Linked DNA regions of Homo sapiens. The protein of the gene in region 1 purifies or fractionates together with the protein of each later gene. This does not show direct contact. Each region holds a gene or a part of one and is shown in the gene's direction. Other genes may lie near its edges.

What was found. Proteins that work in one complex are often made in the same cells at the same time.
Region 2: the proteins of TPM1 (region 1) and RUFY2 purify together in Homo sapiens (affinity purification with mass spectrometry; 3 studies listed by BioGRID and IntAct, with this or other methods). This does not show direct contact.
Region 3: the proteins of TPM1 (region 1) and CCDC102A purify together in Homo sapiens (affinity purification with mass spectrometry; 3 studies listed by BioGRID and IntAct, with this or other methods). This does not show direct contact.

What each region holds. Positions count from the first base shown.
Region 1 is NC_000015.10:63,052,645-63,059,746, forward strand, and holds part of TPM1 (tropomyosin alpha-1 chain), read left to right. Parts: intron 1-4,340; coding exon 4,341-4,474; intron 4,475-6,918; coding exon 6,919-7,036; intron 7,037-7,102. UniProt on the Homo sapiens protein: Binds to actin filaments in muscle and non-muscle cells. Plays a central role, in association with the troponin complex, in the calcium dependent regulation of vertebrate striated muscle contraction.
Region 2 is NC_000010.11:68,376,278-68,383,277, reverse strand, and holds part of RUFY2 (RUN and FYVE domain-containing protein 2), read left to right. Parts: intron 1-1,878; coding exon 1,879-2,046; intron 2,047-3,756; coding exon 3,757-3,854; intron 3,855-4,607; coding exon of another isoform or gene 4,608-4,716; exon of another isoform or gene 4,717-6,085; intron 6,086-6,262; coding exon of another isoform or gene 6,263-6,290; exon of another isoform or gene 6,291-6,305; coding exon 6,306-6,425; intron 6,426-7,000.
Region 3 is NC_000016.10:57,512,572-57,519,571, reverse strand, and holds part of CCDC102A (coiled-coil domain-containing protein 102A), read left to right. Parts: intron 1-830; coding exon 831-947; intron 948-1,294; coding exon 1,295-1,504; intron 1,505-3,108; coding exon 3,109-3,279; intron 3,280-4,127; coding exon 4,128-4,231; intron 4,232-6,701; coding exon 6,702-6,831; 3' UTR 6,832-7,000.

The sequences.
Region 1 (7,102 bases):
TTTTAGATAACAGATGGTCATGTGTCTATGGGCTTGTACCGGCAGAGGCAACAGCAGGTCCTTAAGACTCCCCAGGTGCCATGATGAAAAGAACCTTAGAAAATATTGAAATAAGCTCAAAACTTAAAAAAAAAAATACCAGAAATAAAAGCTAGTAAAGGTGAGAGGTGTGGGGCTTTTGGAACATAGAGCATAATAAATCAGAATAAAAAGTAAAAATAAGAAAGAGAAAAAAGTGGCCCTGATTAAATTATAAAATTAAGCATATCTTGAATTCTAACGAGCCAAACAAAAATTCTACTAGGCCAGTATAATAGGGCCTGCAGAGCCTGTCATGGGTTCAGGGTTTTCCCATAAAGATAGGTGTACCTCAGATACTACTCCTAGGTCCTGGCTTTAACCTCAAAGCCCCTCTGCCTGTCCTGCTCTGAAACCTCTGGGGCAGTAGGCATTGACTTCTGGGCTAGGGAGTAAATGTTCCGTGTCCTTATGTGAGCTTCCTATTACCCATTAGCATTGTTTTATGAAGTTTTCAATTTTATATCCTGCCTCATTTCAAAAAGATTGTGATAATCACTTTAGCAGATGATTTGCATTGCAGCAACTGTTCTCCCAGTCCTGGTTAGGATCTGTGCCTGAGGCCTTTTGTGGGGAGTTGGGGTGGGGGCCGGAGAACATCTCAATCTGATCTCAGGAGAGATAAAGACACAGGAGTGAGAACTGCCAGTTCCAAGGTTTCCGTGATGTTCCGGGAAGCCAGGAGAAGTGACATAGTGGAGAGCCGGCATGCTGGGAGCCTAGTGACTTGGATCTTAATCCTGTCTCACACTGATGGCTGTATGGCCTCCACATACTTCTGTGCCCAGGGTCAGAGTTCCCTCCTGCCGCCTGTTTCTAGTCAAGAGCTAGAAGAATAGCCAGCTTCTTTGGGTGGTGGCAAAGGGGATTGTTTATTTATAGTACAGATTCCTGCCCTCCCCCTTTGACCTCCTGAATCAGAATCTCTAGGGACACGGCCTGGAAGTTTGATTTTTTTTTTTTTTTTTTTGTTTTTGAGACAAGAGTCTTGCTCTGTCGCCCAGGCTGGAGTGCAGTGGCATGATCTCGGCTCACTGCAGTCTCTGCCTCCCGGGTTCAAGCAATTCTCCTGCCTCAGCCTCCTGAGTAGCTGGGATTACAGGCATGTGCCACCATGCCTGGCTAATTTTTGTGTTTTTTGTAGAGACGGGGTTTCACCATGTTGGTCAGGCTGGTCTCGAACTCCTGACCTCATGATTGCCCGCCTCGGCCTCCCAAAGTGCTGGGATTACAGGCGTGAGCCACAGCGCCCAGCTGAAAGTTTTTTTTTTAATGCTCATCTCTGAGTTGATTCTGACACTCAGCCACTTGTGGGAATTGCTGATCTGGACAATGCCTAGGGATCCTTCTAGCTAAAAAATTGAGACCCTATTTTTTGGATTTACAGGGCCTCCTCAGGAAGGGGCAGCCACTCTCAGGTCTGCTGTGTGTGCCCTACCATTCCTCCCACTATATCACAAACTGGCACCTAGAAACTGGTCTCCATGCCCAGTCGTTGCTGGGGCACCCTGTATGAAGCCCTGCTGGCTGGTATTCCTGTAGGACATATTCTCTGATGTCCAGGAGTCTGAGGTTCTACAGAATGCCCCTGGGGAAACAAGAGTGGCATTTAGACAACAGCATTCTGTAAACACAGTGCCAAGAGCTAAGGGAAAGAATGGGGGTGGGGGTGATCGGAGGGAAGACACGGATGGATTGGTAGGGGCCCTTTGGGTAGGAAGATCTCATGTGCAAGGCTGGAATGAACATGAGGTGCTGTTTCCTTCCTTTCTGGTGACTCGGCTGTGTGGGGAGCTGGGGATAGAGACCTGTCACCCAGAGGGTTCTTTCCCCAAAGCATAAACAGTCGTCTTTCTGTGAGTACAAAGTCCTTGAGGTTCAGGCCCAGATCTAAAGCAGAGCAGAGAACTTGGAACTTGGTAGCTACAAAAAAGTTTTGAAAATCTTGCTGGCATTTCTCTAATAGGCCATAGCCTCTGTAACAAGGATATTTGCCATCATATTGAAAATGATAAGAAAGGGGGAAAGAAAAGAAAGTGTACAGTGCTTTTGAGTACATAACCTAGACACTCTATGGAGGCTTTTTGTTGTTGTAGGGCTTTTGGTTTGTGTGCTTGGTTTTTTTGTGTGGCTTTAAATTTTGTTTTGTTTTGTTTGCCCTTTGTTTTTGCTTCCGCTTTGAGTCTCCCCCCCACCCTCAAAAGGAATAGAATTTTACTGGAAAATGAAAATATAGAAAAGTGAAGAAATCTTACCTGACCCAAAAGTATATCCTTAATATATACATCCTTCCAGTAATAGTAATAAAAAAAAAAAGCCTAATGGTTTTTAAAAGACACTTCCCTATAATTGAGAGATTTGTTATCCTATTACCCTCACCCTTCAATACACACACACACCAGAAACAACAGTCATCTGCCAGTAATTCCTAGCTGGGTCCATTTACCAGCTGTGCACTGATAATGATTTACTTTGTAGGCAGTACAGTTGTAAATGCTCTTCCTCTGATTTATTTCACATTTGCCCTGCTCCCTGCCTCCATCAACCAATTACTACATTTTTGTCAAGATAAAAGTGTATTTACATGTTTTTATAGAGTCCTTCACCGTGGTTGGAGATGCCCTACTCACCTCTCTTCCCAGATAAAACTTGGCATTTAAAATCTTACAAATCTAGGTGAGCAAAGAGCTGAAGGTTCTCAGATTCCTTTGATTAAAGACTATGACCACAGTTTCTAACTACATTTGCATTTCCAACTCTGTATTGTGGATCCATAAGCTGAGAACGTTGCTTTTATTAAAATTAGGTTGGTTTTACTCATCTTACTGAGCCCATACTCTGTGCAGAGAACTGTGAGTTCTCTGGATGTGAGCAGCTTACAGTTCAATGACAAAGACAGGGCTGTGTGTAGAGAAATTTGTTATCCTATTACCATGGGTCCCTAAGTGTGTATTGTAATTTCTAGAAAACTCCTAAGTGTTCTGAAAACCCCACCACCCCTTAGTGAACATACATTCAAAGTGGATGAGGATATTTTACCTGATTAGTAAATTCCATCTCCCACTTCCATGCACAATATTTAAACAGCCACCAGTGCAAGTGTGTATAATGGACCATCATAGTCTTATAAGTGTTCTGAGGCTCATAGCAACAATTTCTTATGACAGGAAAAAAATCATTGCCTCTCAAAGAAACCAACATTTTATTTCAGTGACAGATACCAAGTAAAAACAGTACTTGTATTATTTTTCTTTTTAGGAGTTTGATACTTTTCTTGTATTAACCTTGACTTCAAAGAAAAATCATAGGCTTACATCAAAAACACTTGGGAAATTTGTCTTGGCTCTGTTCCAATGAGGCCAGTTATTCTAAAAGGGGTTACTGGATTGTGTTGGGCCTTCATGTGGTGTGTATTTTAGAACCACTGAATTTTAAACTATTTAAGTTCCTTTGTAAGGATCCTATGATAAAGTGGCTTGAAGGAAAGAGTTGAGTGAAACTCTTGAGTCCGATTTCTGGCTGTACTGCTATTGTCTTACATGGCTGAGCCTGGGTAAGTCTTGTCTCAGTTCACACTTCAGGCCCCCAGTGAGTGAGGTGGCCGTGATGACGCTCTTGTTTAACAGGCAAGTAAAGCCAGGGTGTTGAACTCTACGGAAGTGGGCCGGGCGCAGTGGCTCACGCCTGTAATCCCAGCACTTTGAGAGGCCAAGGCAGGTGGATAAGGAGGTCAGGAGATTGAGACCATCCTGGCTAACACGGTGAAACCCCGTCTCTACTAAAAATACAAAAAAATTAGCCGGGCGTTGTGGCGGGCGCCTGTAGTCCCAACTACTCGGGAGGCTGAGGCAGGAGAATGGCGTGAATCCAGGAGGCGGAGTTTGCAGTGAGCTGAGATCGTGCCACTGCACCCCAGCCTGGGTGATAGAGCGAGACCCTGTCTCAAAAACAAAACAAAACAAAACAAAAAAATCTACGGAAGAAAGGAACCATGTGAAAGAGCGTTTGCTAATGATCTGTCTGTCTGATGAGAATTGTGTGTATAGATTTGTGTATACACAAATATGGATGTTCACTGTATAAATCAATGTGTAAATGTGTCCGAGAACTCCAGAGTTGATGAGGGCTTGTAATGCACTTAAAGGTAGCTCACCACAAGACAGTCTTCCTATCTGAAATCAGCATTGCAGTCCCAGCCATTTCCTGAAGCTACCACCCTCACTTTCTCCCCAACTCTGAAATGCTTTTCACTCTCTACCTAGGCTGAAGCCGACGTAGCTTCTCTGAACAGACGCATCCAGCTGGTTGAGGAAGAGTTGGATCGTGCCCAGGAGCGTCTGGCAACAGCTTTGCAGAAGCTGGAGGAAGCTGAGAAGGCAGCAGATGAGAGTGAGAGGTGAGAATGCCTCATCAGCCATCTTTTGCAGCTGCCTTTCCTGGTGGAATAAACCGGAGGGCTCCTGTGATCTTTGAGGTTTAAGAATTTTTCAGTCCCCTGGTGGTGGGATCATTTCCTCTATTGATCCCAGGTATAACTCGGTTGGTTTTGTTCATTTAGCATTAGTGAAACACCTACTATGTCCAAAGCACTGTCCTAAGCCCTAAGGTTACAAAGAAGAAGATGATCTTGTTCCTGCCCTTACAGAACTCACCATCTAATGAGGGAGACAGACATGTAAAGGAGAAATGTCAGGGATACAAGTTGGCCCTTTCACTCCTACTGACCACAGAGCAATTGTGCATTTTTTAAAGTGTAACTTTATTTTATAATATACAAGGAGGCTTAGGTGTAAATAAAGGAACTGTGGACTATCAGTTGTCAAAATAGCTTAACAAATAGGTGGAAGAAAAAACACAAAGCAGAAACATGGTCTGCAAAAGTAAAATATTTTGGACTTGGTCTTAGTAATATACACAACACACATGCACACAAATAGTCAGATGCTCGTGTGTTCTGAGCCCACCTCCACTGTAATCTGGCTGTAGCTGAATTATTACTCAGATTCAGCTTTGTGGTAGTAAAGGAAAGCATGGTTCGTATAGACCAGCACAGCCTTGTGTGGTCTAAAAGGCATTTTCCCTTAAGCTCAACTGTTGGAAGTAAGGATTTGCCATATTGCATAGAAGTACTTCAAGAGAGACTCCATGAGGTGAGAGAGCGTTCTGCCGCTTGAGGGATGGCATAGCATGAAGGGGCTCAGAGCACTGAATGTGTATCTGTCTGTGCTGTGACCTGGGCAAGTGAATGCAGTCAGTCATCTTGTCCATTTCTTACTCTTTGAAGTGACCCTACCACTAGGTACCAGGTATAAAGAGTGATTTCAGACTTTAGGATTAAAGAAGATTTTTAGCTAAACTTTTTAGGCCATTATTCACCGCTGCTTAGTGTTTCTTCGCTAACCAAGCATTTTGGACTTCTTTAAGATGACTAAGCATCTTACAGTGTACGCATAAGAGCAGTTTTGTGGCTGACTTCTTTCTGAAATATACTTGTTAGTGTACCTTAAAGGCAGTCTGGTAATGTTAGACTTCGGAGTAAAGGGGACTTGGGGATCATTTAGTCCCTTAGTTTTACAAATGAGAAAAGTAGGGCTCAGAGGCTGATGTGACTTGCACCAAGGCTCACAGCATATTTGTGGCTAAGCCAAGACTCCGACCCAGATCTCCTCAACTGTATTCCAATGCTTCATCAAAAGATAGTGGGCCAGATGTGGTGGCTCACACCTGTAATCCCAGCACTTTAGGGGGCCGAGGCGGGCAGATCACTTGAGGCCAGGGATTCGAGACCAGCCTGGCTAACGTGGCATAACCCCTAAATCTACTAAAAAATAGAAAACTTAGCCAGGCGTGGTGGTGCACACCTGTAATCCCAGCTACTCGGGAGGCTGAGGCAGAAGAATCGCTTGAACCCAGTAGGTGGAGGTTGCAGTGAGCCAAGATCACACCACCGCACTCCAACCTGGGTGACAGAGCGAGACTCTGTCTCAAAAAATAAAAATAAAAAAATAGTGGTTCACTTATACTGCCTACTTAAATTTTGATAAATGAATTCCATTTTACATGACTTGTTATTCCATATATCTGTAAAATATCATAGGTCATTTAGTATTTTTCTGAAACATTACACCACGCTATAGGACCCTAATATACACCATGCCATAGGACCCTAATACACTCAGTGTAGAGGACAGTGTCAGGCCTGTCTCCCAGCATTGCTGTCATGAAAGGGTTCCATTATAGGTAAAACTTAATTTGATGCATTCAGTTGAACCATAAGAAATTGCCATTATTACTTGTCTGAAATGGTCAAATATCAGCATTCTTTGTGGACTTAATAGTTTATTAAATCTAACATTAAGTCTAATATTTTTGTTTATGGGTGGCAGGGTAAGAAGATTCTTTGTAGAAAGAGGTATATAAAGATAAGTTTGATTTTGTTCTAGCTTTGGTTCATGTGCAAGCTGAGGCTTCCCACAGGAAAGGCAAGAAATCTCATTATCTTTTTAATAGTAAAGCATATTGGCTTTTCCGGTTTCATACTGCCAAGATTCAGACAGATTCCTGACGTGGTACCTTTCGTCATCATTAATGTTAGATGCCTGATAGTTTCATCAGTACTCAAAGTGAGAGAGTTCATTCACAGTGAACAGAGAGAAATGTGTCTCTTTTTTCCACCTTTAGCTCTGGAAATTGTTGTTTCCTGGTTTGGAAAATAAAAGTAGCTCTGTGCTCTATTTTGGTCTACCACTTACACTAAGCCTCACAAGCCACAGCAGTGCAGTGTGCATTTGGGAAGTTCAGCTCTAAATCTTGGGTTTTCTTGCTTGTCTTTCTTTTCAGAGGCATGAAAGTCATTGAGAGTCGAGCCCAAAAAGATGAAGAAAAAATGGAAATTCAGGAGATCCAACTGAAAGAGGCCAAGCACATTGCTGAAGATGCCGACCGCAAATATGAAGAGGTCAGATCCTGGGGCCCAAAGCCTTGTGGACACCCAGCAGTGGCCTTCAGGAAGCCAGGGAGCAAT
Region 2 (7,000 bases), on another chromosome or scaffold:
TCTTGGCTCACTGCAGCCTCTGCCTTCCAGGTTTAAGCAATTCTTGTACCTCAGCCTCCCAAGTAGCTGGGACTACAGGCATGTGCCACCATGCCTGGCTAACTTTTGTATTTTTTATAGAGATGGGGCTTTGCCGTGTTGGCCAGGCTGGGCTCAAACTCCTGGCCTCAAGTGATCCACCTGCCTTGGCCTCCCAAAGTGCTGTGATTATAGGCATAAGCCACTGTGCCTGACCTGTATCAGTGTTTTTTAAACTGTAAGTTACAGTATATGATTGTGAATGAATGGGTTATGACCAGCGTTATAGAAAATGAAATAGAACAGAATGACATATTCAAATATTAGGAAAGTCATATTTAAAATTAACTTGTTTTTTAACCTTTGAAATTGTGAAATATAATGCCAACAGAAAAATACGAATATACAGCTTAATGAATTATAACACAAATAACCTGCGTAACCTCCACCCAGGTCAAGAAGAGAATATTGCCCATCTTTTTATCACCTTTTCTGTTTGTCTTGAATGCTAATAAATTTCTTTTTTTTTTCTTTTTTTTTTTTTTTGAGATAGAGTCTCGCTCTGTTGCCCAGGCTAGAGTGCAGTGGCGCCATCTCGGCTCACTGCAAGCTCTGCCTCCCAGGTTCACGCCATTCTCCTGCCTCAGCCTCCCGAGTAGCTGGGACTATAGGCGCCCGCCACCACGCCCGGCTAATTTTTTGTATTTTTAGTAGAGACGGAGTTTCACCATGTTAGCCAGGATGGTCTCGATCTCTTGACCTCATGATCTGCCCACCTTGGCCTCCTAAAGTGCTGGGATTACCTGCATGAGCCACCGCACCAGGCCAATAAATTTCTTAAAATAAATCATAAGAAACTTTTTAATCCTTCTGATAAAAAATTCTTAAGAAATTAAACTGTGTTGGCCGGGCACGGTGGCTCACGCCTGTAATCCCAGCACTTTGGGAGGCGGAGGCTGGTGGATCACAAGGTCAGGAGATCGAGACCATCCTGGCTAACATGGTGAAACCCTGTCTGTACTAAAAATACAAAAAAAAAAAAAATTAGCCAGTCATAGTGGCAGACCCCTGTGGTCCCACCTACTCGGGAGGCTGAGGCAGGAGAATGGCATGAACTTGGGAGGCGGAGCTTGCAGTGGGCCAAGATGGTGCCACTGCACTCCAGCCTGGGCAACAGAGCGAGACTCCGTCTCAAAAAAAAAAAAAAAAGGAAATTAAACTGTTATTTGAGTTACTTTGGCCTTTACATGTACAGACTGCTTCATTTCCTTTTGTTTAAGGAAAATTAATATTCAATCTATGAAGCATAAAAATGATTAATTCTTGGACCGTTAAAGAGTAATGATTAACAGAATATAGAAAATGCTTTCATTTTAACAAAAACTGCGTTTGAAAATATTTACTTACTTTTTGAGACAGAGTCTTACTCTCTTGCCCCCGCTGGAGTGCAGTGGTGTGATTTCAGCTCACTGCAACCTTTGCCTCCTGGGTTCGAGTGATTCTTTCACCTCAGCCTCTCTGGTAGCTGGGACTACAGGCGTGTGCCACCATGCCTGGCTAAGTTTTTGTATATTTTTGGTAGAGACGGAGTTTCACCATGTTGGTCAGGCTGGTCTTGAACTCCTGACCTCAAGTGATCCACCCACCTTGGCCTCCCAAAGTGCTGGGATTACAGGTATGAGCCACTGCGCCTGGCCCTGCATTTCAAAATATTTATTGCCTTGTTATAGGGCCTGGTTGATTCCCTTTAGTGGACTTAAAAGGTGTAGTCTGCATATTGAATGGAAAATCTTTCTTAAAGTATATCTAATTTTTACATCCTGAAGTGGCATGTGAATTGAGGATACATTGAAATTGCAGGATGTAGAGAATGAGCTAGCAGTACAAGTTAGTATGAAGCATGAGATTGAACTTGCCATGAAGTTGCTGGAGAAAGATATCCATGAGAAACAAGATACTCTGATAGGCCTTCGACAACAACTAGAGGAAGTTAAAGCAATTAACATAGAGATGTATCAAAAGTTGCAGGTAAGGATTGTTCTTAAATTTCATTTTATGTAAATTGAAAGTGAATATTTGTAGAAAGGTTTTGGTTTTTAAGAGATGAGCCCATTTTATTTTAACTGTGCAATATTATAAAGGCCAATGTCTTTTTTTTTCTAAATGAAAGCTTAAGAAATGTAATGAAAAAGGTATCAACAAACAAAATATCACCTGTCTAAATTTTTAATGTTGAAAGATTAAGAGTATGAAGATTAAATCTTTTGGGAAAACTCTCAATTTAAACTGCAAAACGTTTTTGTGAACTTCCTTTTCCAGTGTAGTTCTAAGAAAGATTTAATTTTGATTGAAATGCTACACTATCAAAATAGTAAATTTTCTTTCTTTGTTTTTTTTTGAGATGGAGTCTCGCTCTGTTGCCCAGGCTGGAGTACAGTGGTGAGATCTCGACGCACTGCAACCTCTGCCTCCCAGGGTCAAGCGATTCTCCTGCCTCAGCCTCCCTAGTAGTTGGGACTACGGGCATATACCAATACGCCCGGCTAATTTTTGTATTTTTAGTAGAGATGGGGTTTCACAATGTTGGCCAGGCTGGTTTCGAATTCCTGACCTCAGGTGATCCGCCCACCTCGGCCTCCCAAAGTGCTGAGATTACAGGCGTGAGCCACCATGCCTGGCCCATAATTGTGAGTTTTGTACGATGATATTGCTATTAAGTAGATATGTTGCCAAAACCCTTTACAATTTAATTAATTTGAAAAATGTCATATTTTACAAGAGTGTATTCTGTCATCTTCCAAAAATATTGAAGGTGGAGTTTTTTTTTCCTTTATTACATTTTATTTTTTAATTTTTTTTTCTTTTTTTCTTTTGTTTTCTGTAGAGATGAGGTCTCACTATATTGCCCAGGCTGGTCTCAAGCGATCCTCCCACCTTGGCCTCCCAAAGAGCTGAGATTACAAAGGCCTCCCAAAGAGCCACTGCACCCGGCCTATTACATTTTAAATGAGGACTAATAGAGGCCAGGTGCCATGGCTCATGCTGTAATCCTAGCACTTAGGGAGGCCGAGATGGGAGGATTGTTTGATGCCAGGAGTTCGAGACCAGCCTGGTGAACATAGCAAGACCCCATCTTAAAAAAAAAAAAAAAGGGCCGTGTGCGGTGGCTCATGCCTGTAATCCCAGCACTTTGGGAGGCCAAGGCGGGCAGATCACAAGGTCAGGAGATCGAGACCATCCTGACTAACACAGTGAAACCCTGTCTCTACTAAGAATACAAAAAAATTAGCTGGGCGCAGTGGCGGGCACCTGTATTCCCAGCTACTTGGGAGGCTGAGGCAGGAGAATGGCGTGAACCTGAGAGGCGGAGCTTGCAGTGAGGCGAGATGGTGCCACTGCACTCCAGCCTGGGCGACAGAGTGAGACTGTCTCAAAAAAAAAAAAAAATGACTAATAGCACTGCTTTATATCACACAATTATTTTAATGTATAAAGTAACTCTGTTCATTTCAAAGTAACAGTCCCATAGCAAAATGGTGTAAGAAACTTATAAATACTCAGGTTAACAGATCAGAACTCTACTTGGGAGGCTGAGAGGTGGGATAGCTTGAGCCCAGAAGTTCAAATCCAACCTGGGCTGCATAGTGATACCCTATCTATTAAAAACACGCACACACACACACACACAAACACACACACACAAATCAAAACCACCATAGCTTTTGTTTTTATAAATAGGGTTCTGAAGATGGCTTGAAAGAAAAAAATGAAATAATTGCCCGACTAGAAGAAAAAACCAATAAAATTACTGCAGCCATGAGGCAGCTGGAACAAAGGTACAGCATTTCCAGTCTTAGTTTCTTTTTTTCTTTTCTTCTTCCCTTTTTCTTTATTCAGTTCCTACACCTGCCACAAAAACCATTAGGAAGACATAGATTAGGACATGTTTTTTGTTTAAGCCCAGCAGGATTTTGCGTTTTTGCTTTGGTTGTTGCATGGAATCAAGTTGCTTTATATTACGCTGATTCATTTGAAGTTGTCATATTGTAGATTTTTCTTAGAGGCCTAATATCAGCAGTTTCATGTCGTTCAGTTACATAAAACAAATACACAAATAAAAATGTCAAAAAAATTAAAAATGAACAAACAGAGTGAGATTATCCCTGATTGATTTCCATGCATATTAATTGTCATATTCTTTGCCATTCACCATCTGTTTATCTGAAATCAAGCATTCCGAATTGGTGGTTTAGTTTTGTTTCTTTGAGCTAGGACCCTCAACCCAACCGAGGATATAATTTTGTTTAAATTGAATTGTTTTATATTGGCATTTTTCACTTTTATTGTTGGAAAATGTAATGTATTTCCATTGCCCTGTCATGTTGGTGTCAACATATGTCTTTTATCATTGCTTTCTTTGAATCTACTTATGAAAAACATAACTATTAATGCTTTATTGACATGAATATTCTTTTATTGACATCCTCTTTCTTCTTTTTTCTTTTTTGTTTTCTTTATCCCCATTTTTACATTTTGGACATTTTTATTACCTTTTTCTGTCTTTGATTTCTTTCCATTCCATTATGAAGTGACAACGATTTGTTAACTCAAACTAGGACAATTGCAATGTCATTGGTGAAATGTGCCAGCAGTGACACGCAGGACCAGTACAAGCTGGTTAAAGATATATCTTTCTGAAGACCACTTGTATTTAAACAGACTAAATGAAAAGAGAATCAACAATTTTATAATATATTAAATAGAAAGGAATCTAAATGCTATTAAATATTCTAAAAGGATGTTAGGAACCCTGTACATTTCTTGGTCAGCTGCTGTGGTAATACACTGCCATCAAGCAGAGTGGGTGCACTTGGATTTCCAGACATACGTTCCTCAAACCTTGTGCACAAAGGGTGATTTGAGTATTGACCCTTTGGAGGTCAGGATTTTCAAATGCAGTTTTATCTTTTTAGCTACTTTTTGATGAAAAATATAAAGATTGTTTAAAAATAACTTAACCTTCAGTTTTATACTGTGTTGGCACAGATATTTTTTTCTCATTGGCCCACTCTTTGCCCAATGGCTCCCTTACAGATTTTTACATATGCTTTAAAATAATTTATAACCCAGACTGGCCAACACCCTGTGCTTCAGCTTCTCAGTTTTCCGGTTCTCCCTTGCCCTCTTCTGTGATAGCACAACTTCAAGGCCTACCTCACTCTGACTTCTATTTTCCTTTTTGTAACCTTAGAGAAAAGCTTGGGTCCAATCCCAGCACCTGAATATTTTAATTTAAACTTGGATTTGGAGATAACTTAAATGTTACTCTCCCTTCCTTGGAAGCAGCATTTATACCCCTGAAATATGTGAGGGTTGCTCCATTGGTATGGTTTTAAGGAAGAAAGGAAGAGGAAGAGTTTTTTAGTTAGTTGAACCGAAATTTCTCTTGTGATTTCCTGCAAGGAGTTAATATCCTTTGAATCTTGGTAAATATTTTCTTATAAAAATATTGAAGTTAAATACAAGAAATCCTAGATGGCCAAAGAAGGCAGGGAGTGGAGCTAAGCACAGGAAAATGCAACGACTTACAAATAAAAACAGGAAAGATGAAAATCACAATGTTTTAGCTAATTTTTAATATTAAATGGTGAGGAACAAAAATGATCTCTAGCAAATGATGCCAACTGGCACCAAATTCTTTTTGAATCTTAAACATATATGCACACGTGCACACACACACACACACAGAGCTTCGGCATAATTTAGTAAATGCATAAAGATGCCGTAAGAAGGACTTGGCTATCATTTGGAGTAATTGCAGGTCTTTGCTCTTGGCCTTGTAGCACACTTGATTCCTGGCATACACATCCTAGCATAACATATAACAGTGTGGCTTCTTCACCTAGTGTAGGCATAAATCCTTTGCTTTTCATGGTTTTGTAAAAAGGTAGTAACATACCTATTATGCTTTGAAATTTGATTCGTTATGCTCTGCATAAGTGGTAAAGGCTGTATTGCTTTGCACTGTTAATTATGAACAAGAAATAAAACAAATTTGAAGATAGTATTCTGGGCATACTACATGTTATATTGAAAAAAAAAAATCACAAAACAACTTCTAGACATTGTGTGGCTCTTTCACGTTTGAGTTTGTGAGTTTTCCCCCAAACTTTGTTTTCATTTAGAAATGTTTCTATTTCCCCATTTTTCTTTTATTTGTCTTCTTCACCCTTTTACACCCTAGTTCTAGCCTCAGTTTTACCCAAAGTTGATTTGAATTACACCAGATTGCAGCAAGCAGAGAAGGCGCAAATGGAAGCTGAAGATGAGGATGAGAAATATCTACAAGAATGTCTCAGTAAATCTGATAGTCTGCAGAAACAAATCTCCCAAAAGGAGAAACAGCTGTGAGTATTTCACTCTCAGAAACAAATACTTGTGTTAACATAACCCCCTCATTTTTTTGCACATAATGATAGAATACCAATATTTTTATTTATCTAATGATGCCAGTTAGCTTTTAGTGTTTACTTTAAAAAACAAAAAAATTTAGAAAATATAATTGTAATAATACTTATGTTTTTACTCCCTTTATGATTTACAGAGTACTTTCAACTCTGTTTTGCTGTCTTCTTGCTCTAGGAGAGTTTTATTCATTCTTCTGTTGTTTAACATTAATCTGATGGTCATTATGTTTCTAGGTGCTGAGTATAGGCTTTTGTAACTACAAGAAACTTATATTATTAAAGGACATGCTGTTTTCTGAGAATATATATATATATATATATATATATATATATATATATATATATATATACACACATTTTTTTGAGATGAAGTTTCACTCTTGTTGCCCAGGCTGGAATGCAATGGCATGTGACCTCAGCTCACTGCAACCTCTGCCTCCTGGGTTCAAGCGATTCTCCTGCCTCAGCCCCCTGAGTAGCTGTGATTACAGGTGCCTGCCACCACGCCTGGCTAA
Region 3 (7,000 bases), on another chromosome or scaffold:
CAGCAGTTTGTTGGGGTTTGCTGTATACCGCAAGAAATGTTATTGTCTTAAATGCACGCCAAGCAATGCCGATGCACCTGTGTGCAGAGCAGTGTTGGAATTAGTCACTGTACACTGAGGGCGGCCCTGTGCCCAGGCCATACAACGACACAAAGGTGGACAGACGCACAAGCTCCCCGTCCTCCCAGGCTAGCTTTCCAGTGGGGAGTGGGATGAGGAGGCCCCTCCTCCAGGCCAGGTGGGCAGAAGAGGCATTCCTAAGGAGGGGGCCTTTAGGTCAAGGCCTGAGAATAAGAAAAATCAGTCCTAAGAAGTGTCTCAGAAAGATCCACGCATGTGCAAAGGCCCTGTGGTGGGCAGGAACTTGGTGTGTCTGAGGAACAGAAAGGAGTCCCTGGTGCCTGGAGTACAGTGAACTAAGGGGGAGCGGCGGGTAGGTGTCCAATCGTGCAGGGCTTTGTGAGAGCGTAGAGAGGAGTTGGACTTTACCCTAAGGCACCTGGGAGCCATCAGAGGCTTTGTGGGAGGAGGGTGGTATGATTGCATTCATCTTTGTTAAAAGCTCCCTCTGGGCTGCTGTTGTAGAAAACGGGTTGACAGAGAAGGGCCAGGAGTAGACACTGGGAGGCTAGACAGTAATGAGGAGGAGAGACATTGGGAGGAGCAGAAGTGGTCAGATTCGAGGTCTGTTTGGAATACCTGGTGCCTGCCCCATTTGGGCGCTGCCTTGGCTCCACGCTGAGCACTCCTGCACTGGCGCCCACCCCCGGAGGTGGTTCCAGGCTATATCCTGGTGGTTCTCATGACCAGGTGGGGCCTTATCCCTGCAGCTCAGCATCCTGAAGGAGGCGCACCAGGACGAGCTGGGCCGCATGTCTGAGGACCTGGAAGATGAGCTCGGTGCACGCTCCAGCATGGACCGGAAAATGGCCGAGCTGAGGGGCGAGGTGAGGCCATGGATGGGACCCAGGAGGACCTGGGTTTAGGGGTCCTGGGGCCCTGCTCCATCAGCAGGTCACTGGGAACAGGGCAGGGGCCAGGACTGTGCTCTGAGCGGGGCCAGCCACATCCAATGGTGTCCTGATCTGCAAGAGGCAGGCCTCTCTCCCACACAGAGGCCAGAAGCGCCCTCACATCCTGTACACCATGAAATGAGCCCAGCTTAATTACAGCCAATGCAGCTGGATCTGCTTCCTGGAGCCAAAAATGGCTCCAGGAGGTGGCGGGGGCATCCAGCTCAGGCCCTGCATGCCCCCTCCGCTGGGAGTCCTCACTCTGCCCTGCCCTGCTGCAGATGGAGCGGCTGCAGGCCGAAAACGCTGCGGAGTGGGGCCGCCGGGAGCGGCTGGAGACAGAGAAACTGGGCCTTGAGCGGGAGAACAAGAAGCTGCGGGCACAGGTCGGAGACCTGGAGGAGGCGCTGGCCCGGCGGCGGCGGCAAACAGCCAGCGCACTGGACTGCGACCTGAGGGCCAGCCAGGCCGCGCTCTTCGAGAAGAACAAGGTGGGGCAAGGAGTGGAGTGGCCAGTGCTGGGGCTGCCACCTCCCCATCCAGCCAGAGCGCAGCTTCCCTACTATGTGTCAGGCCTGGTGATAATTATGGTAGCTGCATGTATTCAGCACCTTGTGTGCTAGACCAGTTGGTAATTATAGTAGCCGCATTCATTGAGCACTTACTATGTGCCAAGCTCCACTCTAGGTGCCAGAGACACAGCACTGAACAGACAGATGTGGCCTCCCCTCTTCCCCTCATGGAGCTGAAGACTTACTTGGGGGATGTACACATGGCTCTCTCTGTCACACAGATTCATGCCAATCACACAGCTTCATGGTCACCAGCAAGAAGAGGGGATACTAGGAGACCTGGCTTAGGCCCACGGTCCTGGAAATACCTCCCGGAGGCAGTGACATTTTAAACTGAGTTCTCAGCCAGGCGCAGTGGCACACATCTGTAATCTCAGCACTTTGGGAGGCTGGGGTGGGCAGATCACCTGAGGTCAGCATTTTGGGACCAGCCTGGCTAACATGGCGAAACCCCATATCTACTAAAAATACAAAAATTAGCCGAGCATTGTGGGCACCTGTAATCCCAGCTACTCGGGTGGCTGAGGCAGGAGAATCACTTGAAACCGGGAGGCAGAGGTTGCACTGAGCTGAGATTGCACCACTGCACCCCAGCCTGGGTGACAGAGAAACTCCGTCTCAAAAAAATAATAATAAATAAATAAACTGAGTTCTCCAGGAAAAGCAGCCGTTAACTGGTAGTGTGCGGATTTAGGGGAGGGGATGGAGAGAAGTTAGGAATAACATGAATAAATGTCCGTGGTGAAAGAGACACAGAGCTTTGGAGGAACAAGTCCAGTGTGCTGGAGGGGAGTGAGCGGGGGGATGTGGTAAGTGAGGCACGAGTGGTGGGACTCTTCGAGAGAGTTTAAAGCAGGAGGGGAGTGTGAGCAGGCTGTGTGGGCAGAGGATGGGAAGACAGGCTGGGGGGAAGCTGTTGACATTCCCTGGACAACAAGAGAGGGAGGAGACCTGGACCAGGTTGCAGTCAGTAGAGATGGAACAAAAAGGATGGACTCAAGAGACCTTTAGGCAATGCCTATTCCCATTTTACAGAAATGGAAACTGAGGCTTAGAGAACTCACAGAGCTCCAGGGTGGGCATCTCTTTTGCTGGCTGCCCTTCCTCTTCCCAGCCACTCTGGGCTCTGAGACACCCACCCATTCCCCAGCCTAGCTCATTCCCAACCCAGCTCTTTCAATGCCATACGCCCCTGAAGACTCCAGACCTCATCCTTCCCCGGAAACCCCGACCCTGCTCCAACAGCTCCAGGGTAGATCCAGTAGCATCTGAAAGTTACACATCCAAACCGGAGCCACAGGTTCCACCCACCCAGCCTTCTCACCTCCCTGGAAGGCACCTCCAGCCTCTGGCTGCTCAGCCAAACCTCTACTGCTGATACTTCAGACAACAGATGGAGAGATTCTGGGAAGGAGAGACACCCAGCATCCCTAGAACTGCCTGACCTCGTGGGACTCCCTGGCATGGCGCCCAAGCTGATACTGATTCCCTCCTCCCTCCCACCCCATCCCTGTGCCCTGTAGGAGCTGGCAGACCTGAAGCATGTGCATGGCAAGCTGAAGAAGCAGTTCCAGGAGAAGGTGGCAGAGCTGGCACATGCCAACCGGCGGGTGGAGCAGCACGAGGCTGAGGTGAAGAAGCTGCGGCTGCGGGTGGAGGAGCTCAAGAAGGAGCTGGCCCAGGCTGAGGACGAGGTGAGGACCACAGAGGGGCAGGGGCAGCAACAGACCTTGGCCAGGGAGGAGTGGGGGCCGCAGGGCCATCCTGGCTTCTCCATTCTCAGCCCCTGGTGCCTGGCACAAGCCTGTCTCTCAGGAGTCGCCCAGGATAGAGTGGGTAGGTGCGTGATGAATGGATGGCAGGATGGACATGTGGGTGGGAAGATGGGAAGAAAAATGAACAGAAGACAAGATGGATGTGTGCATGGATGAACCAATGGGTAAAGGAATGAATGGATGGATGAATGGGAGAGAGAGGCAGGGCGGGCAGATGGATGGGTGGATCCAATGGATGTATGAACAGATGATGGCTGGATGGGTAGAGAGTGGACAGATGGATGGACAGCTGACTGGGTCAGTGGGTGGAAGAACGAATACAGAGGGAGAAAGAAGGCCAGGTTGACGGGAAGATAGGTGTGTCCGGGAGAGCAGGAAGGCATGGCTAGGCATGCTAGATGGGCTGCTGATTAGATTAATGGATGGGGAGTGGTGGGTGACTGTCTCCATGGGCAGATGAATATCTCCCTGGACGAATGGTCCGATGGACAGACTGATGGGGACAGAAGGATAGGAGGTGGATGGCTGCATCAGTAGTGCAGGGCCTGGGAGGATGGGTAGATGTGCAAGAGGAGGCAAAGGGGATGGAGAGGAACCAAAGGGATGCTTTTCTAGAAGAGGTAAGCCTTAGCCTAGGCCTCAAGGAGCAAACACTCTCGGAGGAGCACCTTCCCAGGGAACAGCAGGAGTGGTTTTCCCTGGGCGGGTGGCCGGCCTTGCCCAGCCCTGGGTGACCCTCGTGCTTTCGGCCCTGCTCACCCCCACAGCTGGACGAGGCCCACAACCAGGCACGTAAGCTGCAGCGGTCGCTGGACGAGCAGACGGAGCAGAGCGAGAACCTGCAAGTGCAACTGGAGCACCTGCAGTCCAGGTGGGCCCCGGGCAGGGAACAGAAACAGGGCAGAGACTTCCAGCCAGGGAACCCTCCGGTCAGGGACGGAGCCCAAACCAAGGCTGGAGGGGGAGACGAAGGAAGAGATCCAGGTGCCTGGAGCCAGAATCCTGTCCCCTCCGGGCAGGAAGGGCCAGAGCCAGGAAACCAGGGCAGGGGGTGCAGGAAGTCAGGCCAGCTGCAGGCCCTGGAATTGTCTCCTCTAGCAGGAGGGCTGGTGGGTAGAGTGAGGGCAGGAAGGGCGGGCTGGAGAGGTCAGGCCCAAGGCTTGGGGCAGTGGGTGGGGCCAGCAGGGCTCAAATAGGCAGCCCTCAGCGTTACTGGGCCCAGGTGACACCAAGACAGCAGGGATCTGAGAGACTGGTGAGCAGGGACTCGTGGAGGGGCCCCAGGCCTGGATCCCGTCCACTGCCAACAGGCCCCACCCAGCACACTCTGCCTCCCTCTCCCAACCCTGTCTCTGTCCCAGCACTCTGTGAATCACAGAACCAGGCGATATCAGAAAACTTCAGTCCACGTCCCTCCCACTTCACAGCTGGGAGGCCCAAGGAGCATCGGAGCCACAGCATTGACCTGTGCCGGGCCCTGAGAATGCACTTAGTTGCATTCTCTTCTTTCGTGGAATAGAGGGTGCCCGGTTCTGCAGCCAGACTGCCTGAATGGTCTGAAGCCTGGCTCAGCATTAGCAGCTGTGTGGCCTTGGGACATTTATTTAACCTCTCTGTGTCAGTTTCTTCATCTGTAAAATGGGGATGATGATAGTTCTTACCTCTTGATTGTTGTGAGTATTAAATGAGCTGATCCATTCTTAAGAAAGTACCTGGAGGCATGGTAGCTCACACCTGTAATCCCAACAGTTTGGAAGGCCAGGGCAAGAGGATTGCTTGAGACCAGGAGTTTGAGACCCCCTGGGCAACAAAGCAAGACCCCCATGTCTACAAAAAATACAAAACTTAGCCAGGCATGGTGGTGTGTGCCTGTAGTTCCAGCTACTTGGGAGACCGAGGCAGGAGGATCACTTGAGCTCAGGAGTTCATAGCTATAGTAGTGAGCTGTGATCACACCACGGTACTCCAGCCTGGGAGACAAAGTGAGATCCCGTCTCTAAGAAAAAAAGAAAGAAAACACCTGGCACATAATAAATGCTGAGTGATTGTCAGCAGCTGCTGCTATTACTACTGTTACTACTACCGCTGCGGAGGGGCTTATATTTGGGTTACATGTTGTGCATCAGCATCACGCTGCTTCTATGAGAGAAAGGAAAGATGTTTTTTCCTAGGGGGCTGGCAGATGAGGAAACTAAGGCCCAAGAGGGTAAGTCTTTCCATGGCCACACAGTTGGTGGGTGGCCAGGCAGAATCACCCCTGGCCATCAGCCATCCAAGCCCTTATTTATTGAGCATTTACTATATGCTGCTGTTTGCTGAGATCTTGTGGCTTAGAGAATGGGCTGCAGAGACCTAACAGCTATTGTGCCATGGTAAACTGAGCCTCGATTTCCCCATCTGCCTGGGATGACGCCCATAAAGTGTTGTGCAGGGGCCCAGGCGTGGGCCCAAGTCAGGACCCATGCCTGGCTGGCTCTGCCTGCTCTGACCCTGCAGCACACACCCTTCAAAAGACCACTTAGCCTTGGGGCTTTCCCGCAGTCTGGGTCACATTGTTCAGGAGCCATAAACTCCAGAAGTGGGCAGGCAGGCCCTGCTGGGCCTCTCAAGTGCTTCCATCGGGGAGGGTGGGGCCACCCAGGACCGCTGTGTCGTTTTATTTTCCAACTTTTTGTGCTTTAATGTTCCGGGGACAGCTCACTAAATCACTGTGCAGTAATGGAGGCCCCCGCCTGTGCCCCTCCCTTACGTGTTAATAATTCATGTCTTCCAGTAAGATGCAGCCGGGGCGGCCACTTTGCTGGGGGGTTGGGGGAGGGATCGGCATTTCCTTCACCAGCTCTTCTTAGACTCAAAGTTTTCCTCGTAAATTTTGACTTTAGGAATTTTAATGTGAGGAAGAACTAGGGCTGAGCCCTTTCTCACTGACACTGGGAATGTAGAGGGCTCAGCCCACCCTGCACTGTCACACCAACCAACTCTGCTGCCTGTGCTCTGAGAGCCAGGCTTGGGTTCAAATCCTGCAGCATGACCTTGAGCCAGCTCCTTCACCTCTCTAACCGCCCAGCTGCTCTGGCACCACCCACTTCAGTTCAGAGCTCTGCCCCACTCCCCACCATCTGTGTGACTTTGAGCAAATGACTTCACCTTTCTGTGCCTCGGTTTCCTTGCTTGTAAAATGGGGGTGATAATGGCACTTCTATCATATAAGGAGATTACAGGAGATGAGACAGCAGGGAAAGCACCAGGGAAGGCTTAACTGCTCCAGCACCAGCTGCAGCCACCTTATCGGGGGACTACCAGCCAGGCTGCTCTAACCTCCTGTCACCCCCACCCCACAGGCTCCGCAGGCAGCAGCAGAACGCTCCCCTCTTCGGGAAGATCCGCAGTGCTCGCTTTGGCACCGAGGAGGCCGAGGATGGAACCAGTGACCTGGACGAGGACGAGGACCTGCAAATCCAGGTGGCCTAGAGCTTCCTGTGGCTGGGCAGGATGGGCCGCCCCATACCTGCCCAGGGTCCAGGCTAACCAGCCACTCAAACTGATGCAGTGCCTAGGCTCACTCTGGGACCAGTCCCTGCCACAGCCGACTTTCTTCTCTCCCAGGGATGGCGTCAACAGTCCCACCTACCAACGCCCT